2 separate regions of the Homo sapiens genome follow, and region 2 is linked to region 1. The links come from fine-mapping of genetic effects on gene expression. Tissue or cell type: subcutaneous fat. Region 1 holds a variant in brackets; the other region holds the start of a gene. All regions are shown on one strand. Distances are between the middles of the regions.

Region 1 (8,268 bases):
TTCATGTAAGTATATTAGGGAAGCAGATGTCACAGCAGATGAAGAGCTATTTCAATATCTGCATTCGGGATTCTGGGATCACTTAGGTCATTATTTTATAATTAAAGTCATTCATCAACGTTACTGAAGTTTACTATATATATATATATATATATGTGTGTCAACAAATAGAGTCTCAGGCAGCTGATTAGTTTTTTGAGCCAGTCTGAAGCAGACTAGAAGGTTTTTGGCCGAAAGAGTTTGAAAAATGTGAAATACAGTGTCCCATTTACACAGATTAACTGTTACAGTAGTACATAAAAAAAAAAAAATCTGAACGCTGTATCCTAAAGAAATGTGTTTAACTCTTACTACAGTTCATCATACCCTTTGTTAATTATAAAAGCATTTTTATAAGTCTTATGAACATCTAGGGCAATACATTTCTTAGCAAGGTAAGGGCTGACAAACATCAAAATAAACATTTTTTTTTCTGTCCTTCTTGGTTGCTCTAACTTATTTATAATAATAGATTGCTCCTTCATTTAGGAAACTCTTCTCTCTGGCTTTCTGTCTGGGAAAAGACCTCAAGTATGTCTCAAGTGAAGACTTTGCTCGATATTTGGTTGATCAGATCTCTTGTCAAGATGCTTGACTTCTAGGAAGATGTACTTATTTGGATGCCTTTTCATTATATCAAACACAAACTAGCTCAAAGTGAAATGAAAAATTTCTCCAACCCACAACCAAAATTTGTAGCCACCTAAAAAATACTATTTCCATTGCTATTACCACCATATTCCAAGTTAACTAGTTTTGAAATTTTAAGCATGCCTTTAGCTTTGCATTTCCCTTTGACCAACTTACTTCTCTGTTATATGAGAAAGAGAAGTACAAGGGTTTCCCCAAAATTTTGCCTCTTCTCCAGTATCCCTTTACTCCCACTTAGTCCTACAACAACCAGGCTAATGTTTCCACAACTAAAAGGATATTATAAAGTTTATCATAGGCCTCCAGTCTTACACTCTCCTCCCTGCCAATGAGGAAGTTCTCCCTGCCAATAAGTGAAATTTTACCTCACGTATTTTAGTTTTTACTTTTCACAGCCCTTTTTGGAATAAGAGAGATATATTTTTATGACTACATTCACAAACATGCACATATAGATAATGCATAGATATATCTATCTGTTTCCCCTTTTCCGGGAATAAAAAGCAAAACAACTCACCTTAGTATCAAAGATCCCCATAATCCAGTCCTGTTCCACCTTGTTTCCCATTACTCTGGAATCGAAACCTTCCACATGAGCCACGTTATCCAAAACACTATCTTATAAATAGATCTGAGACATTTCTGCTGTAACATTACTATTCTGCAGCTGGGACATCCACATGTTTTCTGTTTTTCAAGACCCTCAGTCCTACTTTCTCAGTGAGTCCTTTCCTGAACCTTCCAGGTTACTGTGATTTCACATTTCTCCTAATTTTTACAGCATTATATTGCCTGCCACCCACCCACTCTGCCCTAAAAGCTTGTAAATTCCCAGTTCTTGATATCAATAGTCTGTGTATGTCTTCTTGTCCTAACTGGGCTATATTTACTAAAAGATTAGGATCCTGTCACATTTATTTTGTATCCTCAGACACTTGTCATCTATCACAGTTCTATGACTGAAGTGACCAGCAAACCTGTTACATAAACAAGACATGCACAAACTCACCTCTACTTTGAAATAGTGGTGACTAAAATCCCAAGTGTCTATTTGTGAATGTTTGTTTTAATCGAAGAGGTAGCTTCTAATTATACTTCTGCTGCTAATATTCTAGGCAGGTTCTTTATCCACCTGTAAAATGAAACAGTGGGACTATATGATATAAATAGTCTATCCAGCCCTAGTCTTCTATAGACTTAATTGCAATTAGTATTTATAAGATCAATGCAAGTGCCACAAAAATAACAGGACTGATGCTACTCGATATGTTTAGTCAGTAAGTAGATCTCTCCCAAACTTTAGCTTTCTCTAGAATTTACATGGACTAGAACTTTCTTTCTAATATAGTCTCTTGGCTGAGGTACAAAGAAAATGTTTGAGTTTATATTTAACCTGGATATATGGTAGGGATATTTCATATACTGTACAGCCTGAAGGTTATTGCTGTGGCTGGATACTTATAAAAGTGCAGGTGTGATGCCAGAGGAATGTATGAAACATTGAAATGAAAGAACTCTATCATGAAAACCATCTCTTTAGTAAGAGCATGTGGCCTGTCAGGTTAGGAGTACCCATTAGTGAGCTTGATGGGTGACATACCTGCAGAGACCTTAGTCTCCTCTTAAAGATTCCTCCAGGAGGGGTCTTTGGAATAAAATTCCCCTTGGCTTGCAGCCACGATGCATTCCTTTGCATGAGCTGAAATGAGTGTTTGGAAATAACTTTTGAAGTAAATCTTCCCACTCCTATAAAAGCAAGAGTTTATATTTCACAGAAGAACGTGGCGTATTTATACCAAAAAGGTACAAGTGGAAAGGCTTTTGATTTACTTGTTTGCTTTTCTTGCATTGCTCACAGTAAAGCGATTTGAGTGGAATGTTAAGTTTGTTTCATAAACACAAAATGGAAGGGAGACCAAGCATGTTGGAAATTATAATGACAGAATTTATTTGTACATTCACTAAACCCTAAAAGCCTCCTCAAATAATCAAATTTGCCAAGCTATTTTCAGTGTTATCCTAGCATTGTTACAATTTAAAACAGGCCAGGGCCCAAATGATTACTTCTTCTCCCTGATCTATATGCCCCCATGCAGTCTACTCAGGAAACATGTGGACTTACAGGAGAAACACTAAATAAACCCATACTTTGATTCCCAGTGCTTGTGACAAGCATTTGATGTCTGAGGCTTTGTCATTTCACAAAACAATGTTGCAGACACAGCAACAAACTTTTGAAATTTTTTTTCATATTCTCAAGATCAGAAAAATCATTCCCAGGCTTGCATTAAGCTATTTCACTGCTGATTTTCAAAAAGCTATCTTAGAAACAGAAATCCATAGTTAATTGCCATTTTGCTATCATAATTGACAAATTCAAATGATTTGTGACATATGATTTTTGACAAATGATTTGTGACAAGTGATTTGTGACAAATTCAAATGATTGTGACATACAGTTTGAGGAAAAAATGTGATCTGGCTGCTATTGGTTGTAGAGACATAACTGTGGTAGTGAACAATTAGGAAGCTGACTTTTAGCTGTAGTAAATTGATGGCCAGCTAAAATTTTTTTTTTAATTGAGTCACTCGGGAAAGACAACGTTTTTCCCCCTTTATTATAATGAAAACCAGGCAAAATATGAGTCAAGTGTTATCACAACAAAATTTGTTTTTGTATCCTAAAGTTCATTAAGGGGAACTCTGTCCCTGGACAAGTTTTGACTTGGTGCTATAAATTATTGTTCGTGGCCAGGCGCGGTGGCTCACACCTGTAATCCCAGCACTTTGGGAGGCCGAGGCGGGCGGATCACAAGGTCAGGAGATCGAGACCATCCCGGCTAAGACGGTGAAACCCCGTCTCTACTAAAAATACAAAAAATTAGCCGGGCGTGGAGGCGGGCGCCTGTAGTCCCAGCTACTCGGGAGGCTGAGGCAGGAGAATGGCGTGAACCCGGGAGGCGGAGCTTGCAGTGAGCCGAGATCCCGCCACTGCACTCCAGCCTGGGCGACAGAGCGAGACTCCGTCTCGAAATAAATAAACAAATAAATTATCGTTTGTATCATAACGTACCCTTGTCAATAATTACCAGCCACTTTCTGCGCTGGTCCTGAAGTAGAGGTAAGGGCTCATCTAGCTTTTTGAAGCTGTCCTCTTGGGCAGACAAACTCAATAAATGGCCATTTTTATTTCTCTTATTTTTATTACTAATATTATAAAATGCTTTGCCAACTATATAAAACATACAACCTATATGACAAATGCAATTTTTATTATTGGCAACCTCACAAGTTAGATTGTGCTCACCAATACAGAGGTCATGTATAAGAGGAGTAGAGTTCTGTACTCACATAGAGAAACATTGGATTTCTATTTATTTATTTTTCAAAATCTGACATGAACTAGATTCTTGAGATGTTAAAGTAATGACTACTACCATAGTCATGGGATGCTGGCAAAGCTAAGGTATGAAATTAATGACAACTACCTTCAGAATAAACTTTGAAAAGGATTAAAGCAGATTCCAAAAACAGTAGCAGGAAACAAATGTCAGCAAGGTCTTGGCCCACACTGCTTTTCGGTAACCATTAGTCATCATCTGACACCTCAAGGGAGAGTGCTGGACAA[A/C]CACTGCAGAGGTTAAGATCCCTGCCCAGTTATTCAGTCTTACCCTGTCCTAGCATTTAGAACCAAAAACAACAGTAACATACCAATAGACCATGCACACTAACTTCATTCGACCCGAGGCAGAGACGACTTGTCTACCTTCCATCACTAAGATAATGTGCTCTCCTTCTTACCCAGCAGCCATTCAAATTTTGGCTGTTCCCTTGGTAGGAAGTTAGACAATACACAGATGACTTGAGCGATTTTGTCTAATTCAAAGCACACACTTATTTCTGGCTAATACTTAGATAGTTTTTTTTTTTTTTTTAACATCAAGGGCATTTCATTTTTAATAGTCTCTAATCGGAAATAGTATGTTTAAAAGTTCTGTGTCTTCACTTTAATGTTTTCCTTACCCAGAAAGATGGTTTCTATTTAGATAAGAAATCTTCTAGAAAGCTGATGGAATCTGTTGTTTCACGGAGCTCCTAAGAGTATCCTCATTTGGCCATGGCTATTCACCATTAGTGTTTAACACTAAAATGTAAACATCAAGACTAAAACTTCACTAGAGTGTTTAAAAAAGCAGGAGTCTATTAATCAGAATCAGGACCATAAGTAATTGAGGGAAAGAGCATAAGCAGTTTGGCAAAAGAAAGCACTTTAAGAAAGCATGTTCATTCTTCCTTTCCAACTTACTCCACAGAGGAAATATTACTCTTCAGAAACGTCATTTCCATTTAATCCTTACCAAATTGCATTTTGAAAACGATAAATAGTTACTTATACCTATGACTGTATTTTAGAGTGACATTCCATAAATGCAAAGATAAGTTCATTTTCTACATTAGCATGGCCACCTAACTTGTGAATTAACATGTGTTCTTCAAAGCTAGAAATTTTAAAATGTTCTGCCTTGAGATGTAGAAAAGGAATATATTGTATAAAAATCTCCCTTACTATGGGAGTATATATTTTAAATAGGTTGTACCTTTTGTATGTCCCTGAGTTTCCTTGCTAAGGCAACTATTTGTATAGTTAGATTTTTGAAATGGAAACAAAAACACTCAAAGAAAAAAGTGAAATATGCCAGCTTTAGTTTGACACATTAGAAACCCAACATAATGCCGGGCACGGTGGCTCACGCCTGTAATCCCAGCACTTTGGTAGGCCAAGGTGGGCGGATCACGAGATCAGGAGTTCAAGACTGGCTTGGCCAACACGGTGAAACTCCATCTCTACTAAAAATACAAAAATTAGCCGGGTGTGTTGGCGCGTGCCTGTAATCCCAGCTGCTTGGGAGGCTGAGGCAGGAGAATTGCTCGAACCCAGGAGGCAGAGATTGCAGTGAGCTGAGACCATGCCATTGCACTCCAGCCTGGCAACAGAGCGAGATTCCAACTCAAAAAAAAAAAAAGAAAAGAAAAAAGAAAGAAAGAAACCCAACATAATATAATATAGTTACTGTAAATGACAGTGAATGCAATTCTGAGCTTCCCAGTAGTCAAGGCAAAAGGTGCAACAGAATATATTAGGTAGTTCTCTATGGATGTTAAAATTAATTTTATAAATTTGTCAGGAGATATAAACTGTTTTTTCTTATAACTGAATTGTGAAAATTTCAAATATGGATCTTTTTACAAGTTATATTAATGTATTAACATCATCAGTAACTGTGAAATAAAATGCAAAGTTATTTGCTATATGGCTATTATTTTACTCCAAAAATCTGACTCTGCTATATAGAAATGTTTAGGAATGTCCTAAAATAAGATTAAATTCTCATTCATAAGCCCATACTTTACATTTAAATACTGTAATTTACAGGATTTCGTTTAATTCAGTAGGTTGAACAAACTGCTTCCAAATTTTATTTCAAAATTTGATGTTTTGTAAATTTTAAGAATATTCTTTTAATATATTATTCATATTGTAAGAAATGTATTTATTTATTTGGTTCTATGAAGAAAAATTAACTCAAGTTGGCAAAAATTCGAGTAAATTTGGAGACTTTTTAGCAAGTAATGAAATGTCTACAAATGTGCCTTGTGACATGTGTATGTATATGAGTGTATACACACACACATCTTACAGGTTCATCAAAGGATGAATTTGGTTGTTTAGTGTGATATACATGCTGTAATTTGATGACTTCCTTTCTCTCTAGCTGTTGTGCTTATGCTGCTAGCTAGAGCTTAGAACTTGCGCTGTGGCTTAGAAACAGGATGTCTTCAGTGTCAGCTTACATGCTTGTCACTTGGGAGTTAAAAATCTCTAAAGTTACTATATTGTGAAATTTAAGTAAAAAAACGAAGGCAAAAACCATAGCACTTCATTAAAATGTAATGGATAAATTCCCAAAGTTAGGGTGACGAAAGTAGAAAAAGAATTCATTCATTTATTGAAAATGTTGATGTTTGAGAATAATGGAAATTACTTATTTTACGCTTGATGTTTTACTCTGTACAAAAAACCTTCAAAAGAGTAAAAAGTGCTGCCAAATATTCTATTTGAGAAGTACATAGTGGTATTTCCATGTTTTAATGTGCTTTAGAATTATTAGCCCCTTTTCTTTGTTGCACGTGCCTTACAAGTTGTTCTTAATTTCGTATTCAAAATATTTGAGCTACATATCCTAATTCAGAAAATAGGGAACTTACATATTTTCCACACAAAATCTTTGGAAATTTTAGAAGCGTTTCCTTTTGTGTTACGTGTTTGCCTTCTGAATTGAGAAACATTGTTAGAGCAAGGATGGGCAAAATAGACGAAGAGAAAGGAATCGAGGCAGGAAATGGAAGGAAAGTAAAACAGGCAACTGACTTACGCTGTGCTGCATTATTTTGCAAAGTAAAAGCATCATCTCTGACTGATTACTGCAGTGCTCTTCTGCCCTCTAGGAAGATCTGTTTTCCACAAAGAAGTTTGAATTATCATTTTAAAATGTGTATCAGATCTGATTATATCCCTCCTTAACATTTTTTACTGTTTCCTTGTGCACTTAGAATGACATTTAAACTCTACCATAGCCTATACAAATGATCCGTCCTTCTCTAACTTCTAAAATCTCCCTCCTTGATCTCTGCTCTGCTTTGAAAACACATCAAGCCTTTTTCCACTTCAGGCACCTTTCACTTGACTTTCTTTGGCCTGGAATGCCCTTCCTCTTGTTCGGTTCATGCCTGGCTTCTCAACTTTTAGGTCTCAGCTCAAAAATTACATTGAAGAGAAATCTTTGATGAATGAATCTAAAGGAGTTCTCCTTCCAGCCCAGTCCCAGTCAGTGCTCACAACTTTGTTCATTATTTCTTCATAGCACTTAATACAATCTGAAATTACTTTCCTTACTTATTTATTTACTTGGGATTTGTCCCCTTCTATGAGAATGTCAACATTTGTTATAGAAAGGAGGGCCTTTGTCTGTCTTGACCACGTAGGTATTCTGTTTAGTGTCTGATACAGAGTTGGTGCAAAATAAATATTTGCTGAATAAGTAAATGGGTGAACTAATGAACTGGGGCATGACTGGAGAATTGGACCTATGTGTGTGTTCTTGAATAGGCGGGTGGTAAGTTTTAAAACTTAGAGAAGTTCAGTTTCTCTGGAAAGAGTTGGTATAATGGCAGAGAGGAAGAAGTGATGCCAGGAAAAACAGAGCCAAATCCCAGAGTTCTTGAATGTCATGATGTGGAGTGTCTGAAATCTGTTTTCTAGTCAATGGATGACTACTGGAGATTTTTGAATAGTCAATGTGTGCTTTAGCAATCCGTCCTTTATTACTAGCTATGGAAAACTCTTTCTGTGTCAGAGGAACCTCATTCACTCACAGGTTCAAGGACAGTGTAACTTCTGAACGTCAGCAGGCTGTTGATTTAGTCAATGTTCATTTCTTTGTCCATACAGTATGACTACCACGTAGTCATGCTTCTGGGCTGGCAAGAGAAAATGTTTGCCTTAGTTCTTCACAGCTT
Region 2 (8,000 bases), 120 kb before region 1:
TTGTCCTGATCCAGCCTTAAAAAGCAGATCAGATTGGCTTTCCTGGGAGGGAATATCTGGGGGATTACACAAAACCCTACCTATTCTCCAAACCCTACCTACTCATGAATTCTACACAGCACCTGGAACCCCAACTCATAGACTTATTCTTTGGGCTGTGGCATTAGCTGTAGACCTGTGGTTCTCAACCTTGGCTTCGTATTATAATCACCTGGGAAACTTCTAAAAATCCCATCGCTCAGGTCATATCCCAGACCAATAAATCAGAATCTTTCAGAGCAGAAGCCAGACACTTCTTAGGTGATTCTAATGTTCAAGCAAATTTGAGTTGTCAATGAATAGTTTCTCTCAAGTCAGGCAGAGATTGTACGTAAGGTAGTAATACAAGGCATATTACTTACTTACTACTTGTAGTAAGATATAAGAAATAAGGTAGTAGGACATACAAGAGGCTTGAAAGAACCTGGCCAATTTGGCAATCAGTAGGATGTGGTTGCATTCTATAGGCTATTGACTGTGTGCTAATGCCAATTATTTCCCTAAGTCTTTTTAGATCCTTCTAGCCAGAAGCTATCTTTGTAACCTCTGTGTTCCCAGAGCTCTTTTTTCTTTCTTCTTCTTTTTTTTTTTTCTTTTTGTTTTTTGAGACTGAGTCTCACTCTGTGGCTCAGGCTGGAGTACAATGGCGCGATCTTGGCTGACTGCAACCTCTGCATCCCGGGTTCAAGTGATTCTCCTGCCTCAGCCTCCTGAGTAGCTGGGATTAAATGTGCCTGCCACCACGCCCAGTTGATTTTTGTATTTTCAGTAGAGACGGAATTTCACCATGTTGGCCAAGCTGGTCTCCAACTCCTGAGCTCAGGTGATCCACCTGCCTCGGCCTCCCAAAGTGCTGGGATCACAAGTGTGAGCCACTGCGCCCGGCCAACACTTTCAATCTAATCTAACACGTACCACATTCTACCTTGTATTATAGCTGTATACATTATATATATCAAATTTGTTTCCTATACAGTACTGTGAGCTTCCCAAAGGTAAGAATCCTGACTTATCTTCTCTTTCACCTAGAATATTTACTTTAAGAGTAGGCATCAAAAATTGTTAATTTAATTGAAATATATTAAATGATGTAGAAATGTCACCAAATGTACAAATAGAATGTAGCAAGGTATCCTGGCACTTTGCCCTCAGTCCCACAGCAGGAGTTCCTATCCTGATGTGCTTCAAAACCTTCCACAAGTGGACTGATAACCCTGGACTAGACTCCAAAATCTTTATCTGAAAACAGACAATCTCTAGAGAAAAAGTCTGGGCAGATGACTGATGTGCTAATTCTGGAACACTGACCATCCAAGGCATTCAATATACATTCAGCTCCAAACTGGAGCTTTTTCATCAGTGATATGAGCCGAATTAGTAACGTTTGGTGGGAAAAAAAAAGAGCATGATTCATCAGTGTCTCTTGGAATTACACAGCCAGGGCTGTTCATGGCCTGAGTGGTCAAACCTAACAAAATGAATGAAGGAATCAGCATGAATCTCTGGCAAGCCCCTCAGCGTAGTGGTGATTCCACATAAAAGCCTTCTTCGGAAAAATCATAGCAACTAGATACATGCGTGAGTCTTTTTCCCATTGCCTGTCCCTCTGCTCACCATTGCAGGGGCTGAAAGACTGATGAGATTCTCACAGGCACTAGAAGACCACAGAAATGCCTCCAGGAGGCAGGCTGGGATCCAGGGTCCAACCAATATTCTTGTGAGAGTGTGAAGCCAAGGAACACGAAAGAGGGGAACACCTTGGCTAAGAATGTATTCGTGACAGAGGAGAAGGGGAGGAACAGGAAGCCTCCAGCTAGTCGTTTGGAATCTGGCAACCATTTCTGTCAGCTTTCTCATTCCTAGATTGATGCAGATTGCTTAATTCCTTGAGGTAAGGGATATACTAAATTGCCTCTTTGTTCAACTCTTAGAATAAGAATTTCCCTCTCCTCTCCCGTCCCCTCCCCTCCCCTCCTCTCCTCTCTTTTCTTTTTCTTTGTTTTTTTTGTTTTTGAGACGGAGTCTCACTCTGTCACCCAGGCTGCATGATCTCAGCTCACTGCAACCTTCACCTCCCAGGTTCAAGCAATTATCCTGCCTCAGCCTCCTGAGTAGCTGGGTCTGCAGGCACGTGCCACCACGCCCAGCTAATTTTTGTATTTTTAGTAGAGACGGGGTTTTGCCATGGTGGCCAGGCTGGTCTCGAACTCCTGACCTCAGGTGATCCACCCGCCTTGGCCTCCCAAAGTGCTGGGATTACAGGGGTGAGCCACTGCACCTGGCCCACAGCAAGAATTTTTTTCTGAATAGCATTTTACGTGTTAGGCGTCTGGCTGTTTAGGAGATGAGGAAACTGAGGCCCTCAGTTGCCAAGGTCACACAGCTGGTAAACGGACGGAGCCAGAATGCGAGTACAGCTCCTCCTGCCTCCAAAGGTTCTCTGGGCCCTGTAAAACCACGGGCTGCACAGGAAAGGCAGGCTATATATTGTTCTTCCCCTGGCCCAGCGCCCTGATCCAATGCCCGGACACACATCCACACCAAGTTGGACGAAAAGGTAAGGGAGAAACCTTCCCCAAGAGAAGAAGCGGTAAGCTTTGGTTCTAAAGGCCCTGGGTTGGGTCCGTCCTTTGCCACTTCTCAGCTCTATGCATTTAGGCAAATCACTTATCTTCTTAAACCTCCGCATCTGGGCCTACAGGGCCTCTATGGGTTTTTTTTCTATTTATTTATTTATTTATTCTTTTTTTTTTTAACTTTACGTTCCGGGATACACGTGCAGAATGCGCAGATTTGTTGCGTAGGTACACATGGCATCTACGGTTTGATTCAGTCTGAAATGGCGCTCCAGGCTTCATTTAGAAGGTGAAGCACTCTGCAAACTGCGAGGCCATACAGAGATTCCAGAATATGATTAAGGCCCTAACCTTGCTAAGCTGGATTTTCTTTATTTCCCAAAAAGAAGACTAATACTATCCACTTGTACAACCAGAAGGGAGCTCACGTGTAAAGCGCCTCGTCCCCGGCCGGCCTCAAGCGGCGCTAGCTCTCTGGCTGGCGCTGGAGTGTGCCGCCCCTGGCAGCCCCGCCGCTGCAGCGGGGAGCCTGGGAGAGCGGCTCTCGGAGTCTCAGGCAGCAGGAGGAGCGTGTGAGCTGTGGGCGTCCCTTTAAGAGCGGCTGGCCAGGCACGGCCTCCGCCTCTCAGTACGCGGAGCGCCGGCGGTCACCTGGGGCTCGCGGAGCGGCCAGATCGCGGCGGAGTCGGCGCGCTTCCCCGAGGGAAGGTGGGAGAGGGGACCCGGACGCGAGGTGCCCCGAAGCCCTCTCGAGCGTAACCGTCCCGCGCCTCTCTGAGGCGGAGGATGCGGGAGCGCATCTGGGCGCCGCCGCTGCTGCTGCTGCTGCCGCTGCTACTGCCGCCGCCACTGTGGGGCGGCCCCCCGGACAGCCCACGCCGGGAGCTGGAGCTGGAGCCCGGGCCTCTGCAGCCCTTCGACCTGCTCTACGCCAGCGGCGCGGCCGCCTACTACAGCGGAGACTACGAGCGAGCGGTGCGCGACTTGGAAGCGGCGCTGCGCAGCCACCGGCGCCTGCGGGAAATCCGCACGCGCTGTGCCCGCCACTGCGCGGCGCGCCACCCGCTCCCGCCCCCGCCCCCCGGCGAGGGCCCCGGCGCTGAGCTGCCCCTTTTCCGCTCCTTGTTGGGGCGGGCGCGCTGTTATCGCAGCTGTGAGACCCAGCGCCTCGGGGGCCCCGCATCCCGCCACCGCGTCAGCGAGGATGTGCGCAGCGACTTCCAGCGCAGAGTGCCCTACAACTACCTGCAGCGGGCCTACATCAAGGTACCCACAGAGCGCTCCTCCACTGCAAAGCCCCTGCGGCTCTCACACGCTCTCTTGAGCCCTCCCTGCTGCCCCCGTCATCTCTGTTCAGTCTTTCGAATTGGGTCTCCTTAAATATGTGTCTCAGTTTGTGAATCCAGATATCTGGTGGCCCTATCTCTGTATGCAACAATTGATTAACTTGGACAAGTCTTTTTCTCTCTTTCTCAGAGCCAGCTTCTCTCTCAAAAAGAGGACTGTCCTGATAAGGTGATGTTTAAAGTACCCATTCAGCACTAATTCATGAGGCATTGACAAAGCTGAATCTAGTACAATTTATCTTCTCCCTTCTCACTTCCCATTTCTCTTCTCCCTTCTCACTTCCCATTTCTCTTCTCCCTTCTCACTTCCCATTTCTTTTGTCTCCTCTCTCTTATCCTTCCTATACTGTAGTCTGCACCTTTTCTCTGAAGTTTAAAAGAATCTTCAAAATAGTGAAGTTGAAAGACCTGTTCCAAAACAAATTTCTCTCTCTTCTCCCCTTCACCTACAAAAAAGTAAAGATCAAAGGTTAAAGAGAAGGTATGCTTGGAGGAGGCGAAGCTGTTTGAGGCAGTCTCAGTCAAAGTATCCACCCTAAGTGTTGACTTTTTCTCCTTTGATAGAGGGCTTACGTTTTCTGGTGGTATGCATTGGACTGGGTTACTAGGCATCAGTCCTCTCTTTCTAGTTTTATTTTTGTATGCCTAACTTGCCTAAAGTTAGCGTCAGGAGGTATAGTATGCATATTGACATATTGTTCACATCCATAACTTTGAAGATCTCTCTGGATGCTTCAGCAGAGGGAATTTGAATGAGTTCTTCAACCTCCACTGCCACTCACCCAATTTTCCTTCAAATTGACACTCTTAACCCTTCTTTCTCGTTTTCTGTGTTAATATATCAATGTATCTTCTACAGCTACCGGAAAAGTGGAAGCTTTGGGGTTGGTTGTTCATGCTAGCCAATGGACCAGGCTGCTCTGCTCTGCTCTGCTCTGCTGTGCTCTGCTTTGCTTTCTTTTCTCCTCTCCTCTCCCCTCCTCTCCTCTCCTCTCCTCTCCCCTCCCCTCCCCTCCCCTCCCCTCCCCTCCCCTCTCCTCTCCTCTCTTCCTTTTCTTTTCTTTTTTTGACGGAGTTTTGCTCTTGTCACCCAGGCTGGAGTGCAGTGGTGCAATCTGGGCTCACTGCAACCTCCGCCTCCCGGGCTCAAACGATTCTCCTGCCTCAGCCTCCTGAGTAGCTGGGATTACAGGTGTGCACCACCATGCCGGGCTAATTTTTGTGTGTGTTTGTGTATTTTTAGTAGCGAAGGGGTTTCACCATGTTGGCCAGGCTGGTCTCGAACTCCTGACCTCAGGTGACCCGTCCGTCTCCGCCTCCAAAAGTGCTGGGATTATAGGCGTGAGCACGGCTGGACCAGGCTGTGTTTCTAAGGAGATGAAAGTACATACCATGTTCAAATATCCAAATGCCTTTTGCAGCTCATCCCACAAGATCTCTGCCCTCATCTGTGGTAGGGTTCTCTCAGATTGGCAACTGTTGGTGGAGTGCACGAAATTTCAACTAAGTATAAATCTTAACTTCCTTGTGTTGTGGCTAAGGTGTTGGAGTTCACTGGACTAGTATCTTGGGCAAGAAATGAGGAGAAAGTCTGAATCCTTTCCAGGACTTGTCTTCTGCTTGCTTGTGCCTCCTGATTGCTAAGGCATGTATGAAGTATAACTCTAATTTCTTCTAAGTGATTTACACAATTTCTGGTGGTCTTACAGAAATCAGTCAACACCAGGCAGAGAGGGGACCTTGAGTGTCTGACGGTGAAGTTATCATAAGCTAGTTCCCAGAGCAGAACATGGGTGGTCCCTGTAGCTTGGTCCTCCCAGGAGTCTCGGATGTAAGGTTAGCAGTCCTGCTGTTAATTCTGTCACAAATTTTGGACATATTTTCCTTTCTCATATCTGGAGAAAGAATACATAGTCAAGGTCAGTCCTATAAAAACAAATAACCATGAGGTAACTCTCAATATGTGGGTTTCCCTGGTTCTGGAATTCTGCTTGCTTCACTGTTAATGTCAGCATTTGTCAGTCATTTCCCCTCCGGTTCCCTGGTTGGAGGTCAAAGAAGGTGAAGCCATAGGTTTAACATACCTCAAATTTTTGTGGTGAATTGATTACAGGAACAAGTCACACTCTGTAAGTGAATTACTGGGTGTTGTCTGATGAATTAATGAAGTTTAAGAAGTTCTTTCAAAGATCCGTGGCTTCGTGTGTTCATTTCAGTTCTACCAGCAATATTTCTGAGAGCAGAACAAGTCTTGCGTCTTCTCCCTACTTCTCTTCTCTGGCAGTTTCTTGGATCTACATAATTGATAATCTCTTAAGAAGAAAATATTTTATCCTTTTGGAAATTCGTTTTTGAAAGTTGGAGTTTGTGAACCTCTAAAACTGCATCATGGTTTTTCTCTCCCCTTCACCCCCCTCCCCCAGCCCCCAAGAAAGCCCCAGTTTTAGCCTTTGCTTGGCTTCCTTGGAATTTCACTTATGAATACGCACACACACCATCTTTTGAGACTGAAAAAAAAAAAAAAAACCTCTCAAATAATAAAAGAACATCCTGGAGCTCTGACAGGTCTGGATTCTAGGGCATTGATTCCCTGATGTTAGGATGAGGAACTCCCTGCCATGTGACTGGATATGGTCATGGTGCCCTGTATTGTTTAATTGCTTTTGACATCAGTGATCCAGTTTGCACTTAAAAGGATAATCCTGGACTAGATCAAATTCAGTGAGGGAGGACTGGAATGCTTCATAAAGCTAAGAAAGTACAATTATTCTCAGCTAAGAGATTTTCCAACTATAGAAGCTCTCAGGAGATGTTACTGCTCCCCCAAATCCTGCTGAGTGGGCCTCCGATGAAAGCAGATTATTTGTGCTGGTGTGTTGGAGGGGAAGAAGGATGAAAAATCATGAAATCTGAGACCCAATGAGTTCAATTTCTTGGTTCACAGATGAGGAAAGGGATGTTTCTAAATGTTTAATAGAAAGGTAAAGAGGTTTGCTCAGTGTCACATATTTAGTGGCATACCAAATGATCTGTTGAAATGAGCACAGGGCTGGGAGTCAGGAGTCTGGATTCTTCCAATAACTGATTCCGATAGCTTTCCTGTGCCCACTGGCCTGTAGGTTCACATCAGGTCCCAGAGAATGCTGCATACCCCAGGGCTATCCTTATGCCAGATTTGGACAGCTCCAGGGATGAGTATATCCTTGTCTTGCAGGGTAACAGATACTCACTACATCTTTCATGAGCCTTGCTCTGTTGAATTTTTTCAAGGCCTGGCATGTTGGGAATTTGCCTAGACAGCTATGAGGCAGTAGTTTCACGTGGCTCCTAGCCATACTTTTTGTTTAAAGGCAGTGTGAGACTCTTCAAACTTTTGATTTTTATCATTTAAGATTGTTAGAGATAACCCATGATTCATAGCCTAAGACGTAATATATAGCTTTTATCATTGCATTCTCTGCTCAGAAACCTTCAGTGGACTTCCTCTTGCTACCATATAAAGCTCAAATAGGTTACCATAGCATCCACAGCCTGGCTCCCTCTCAACCTTCCCAGTCCTATCTTCCCCAACTCTGCCGCCTTCCAGCCAAAGGTAACAATGAGTGCTTTGTCTTATGCCTGACACTTCTGCATCTCTTGGCCTTGTTTAGTCTTTCTTGGGAGGTGTAGAGGCTTTAGAATGGATAGATATGGGATTAATTTTTAGTTTTCCCAGTCTCTATCTGTGTGACTGTCAGCAAATTCCATAAGATTTTTCAGCTTTAGTTCTCCCATCTGCAAAATGGGGAAATAATGGGGCCTACGTTCCTATTTTAAGTTAAGTTTAAGAGATGAGTGATGTAAAGCACCCAGCATAGGGCCTGATTCTCAGTAACCATTGGAGATACATTTATTCTTTTTATTAGTTAAAATAGTAGACCTTTCCTCTTCCTCTTCTACATGTTCAAATCATAACTATCCTAACATATAAATGCACCTATTTCTGTGAGTTCTTCCTTCACTCCATCTACAACTCCCAAAAGTATACCATTTCTCCATT

Evidence for each region. PIP is the estimated chance that this variant, and not a neighbour inherited with it, causes the effect.
Region 2: P3H2 starts here. The variant in region 1 is fine-mapped to the expression of P3H2 in subcutaneous fat (GTEx, PIP above 0.99). The same link has a PIP of 0.9 or more in pancreas.

Annotation. Positions count from the first base shown.
Region 1 is chr3:189,999,853-190,008,120 of GRCh38, reverse strand. The region is part of intron 1 of P3H2 (prolyl 3-hydroxylase 2); the gene reads left to right. Among named protein-coding and RNA genes, the nearest start is that of P3H2, 120 kb to the left of the region's middle. The variant A/C (reference allele first, on the strand shown) is at 4,319.
Region 2 is chr3:190,116,133-190,124,132 of GRCh38, reverse strand. P3H2 (prolyl 3-hydroxylase 2) reads left to right here and starts at 3,236. Exons shown (of 15, transcript NM_018192.4): 1 at 3,236-3,881. The coding sequence starts at 3,402. P3H2-AS1 (P3H2 antisense RNA 1) reads right to left here and starts at 3,169. Exons shown (of 4, transcript NR_126419.1): 1 at 3,044-3,169. RefSeq lists an enhancer at 2,850-3,029 and silencers at 2,999-3,293, 3,240-3,469, 3,680-3,759.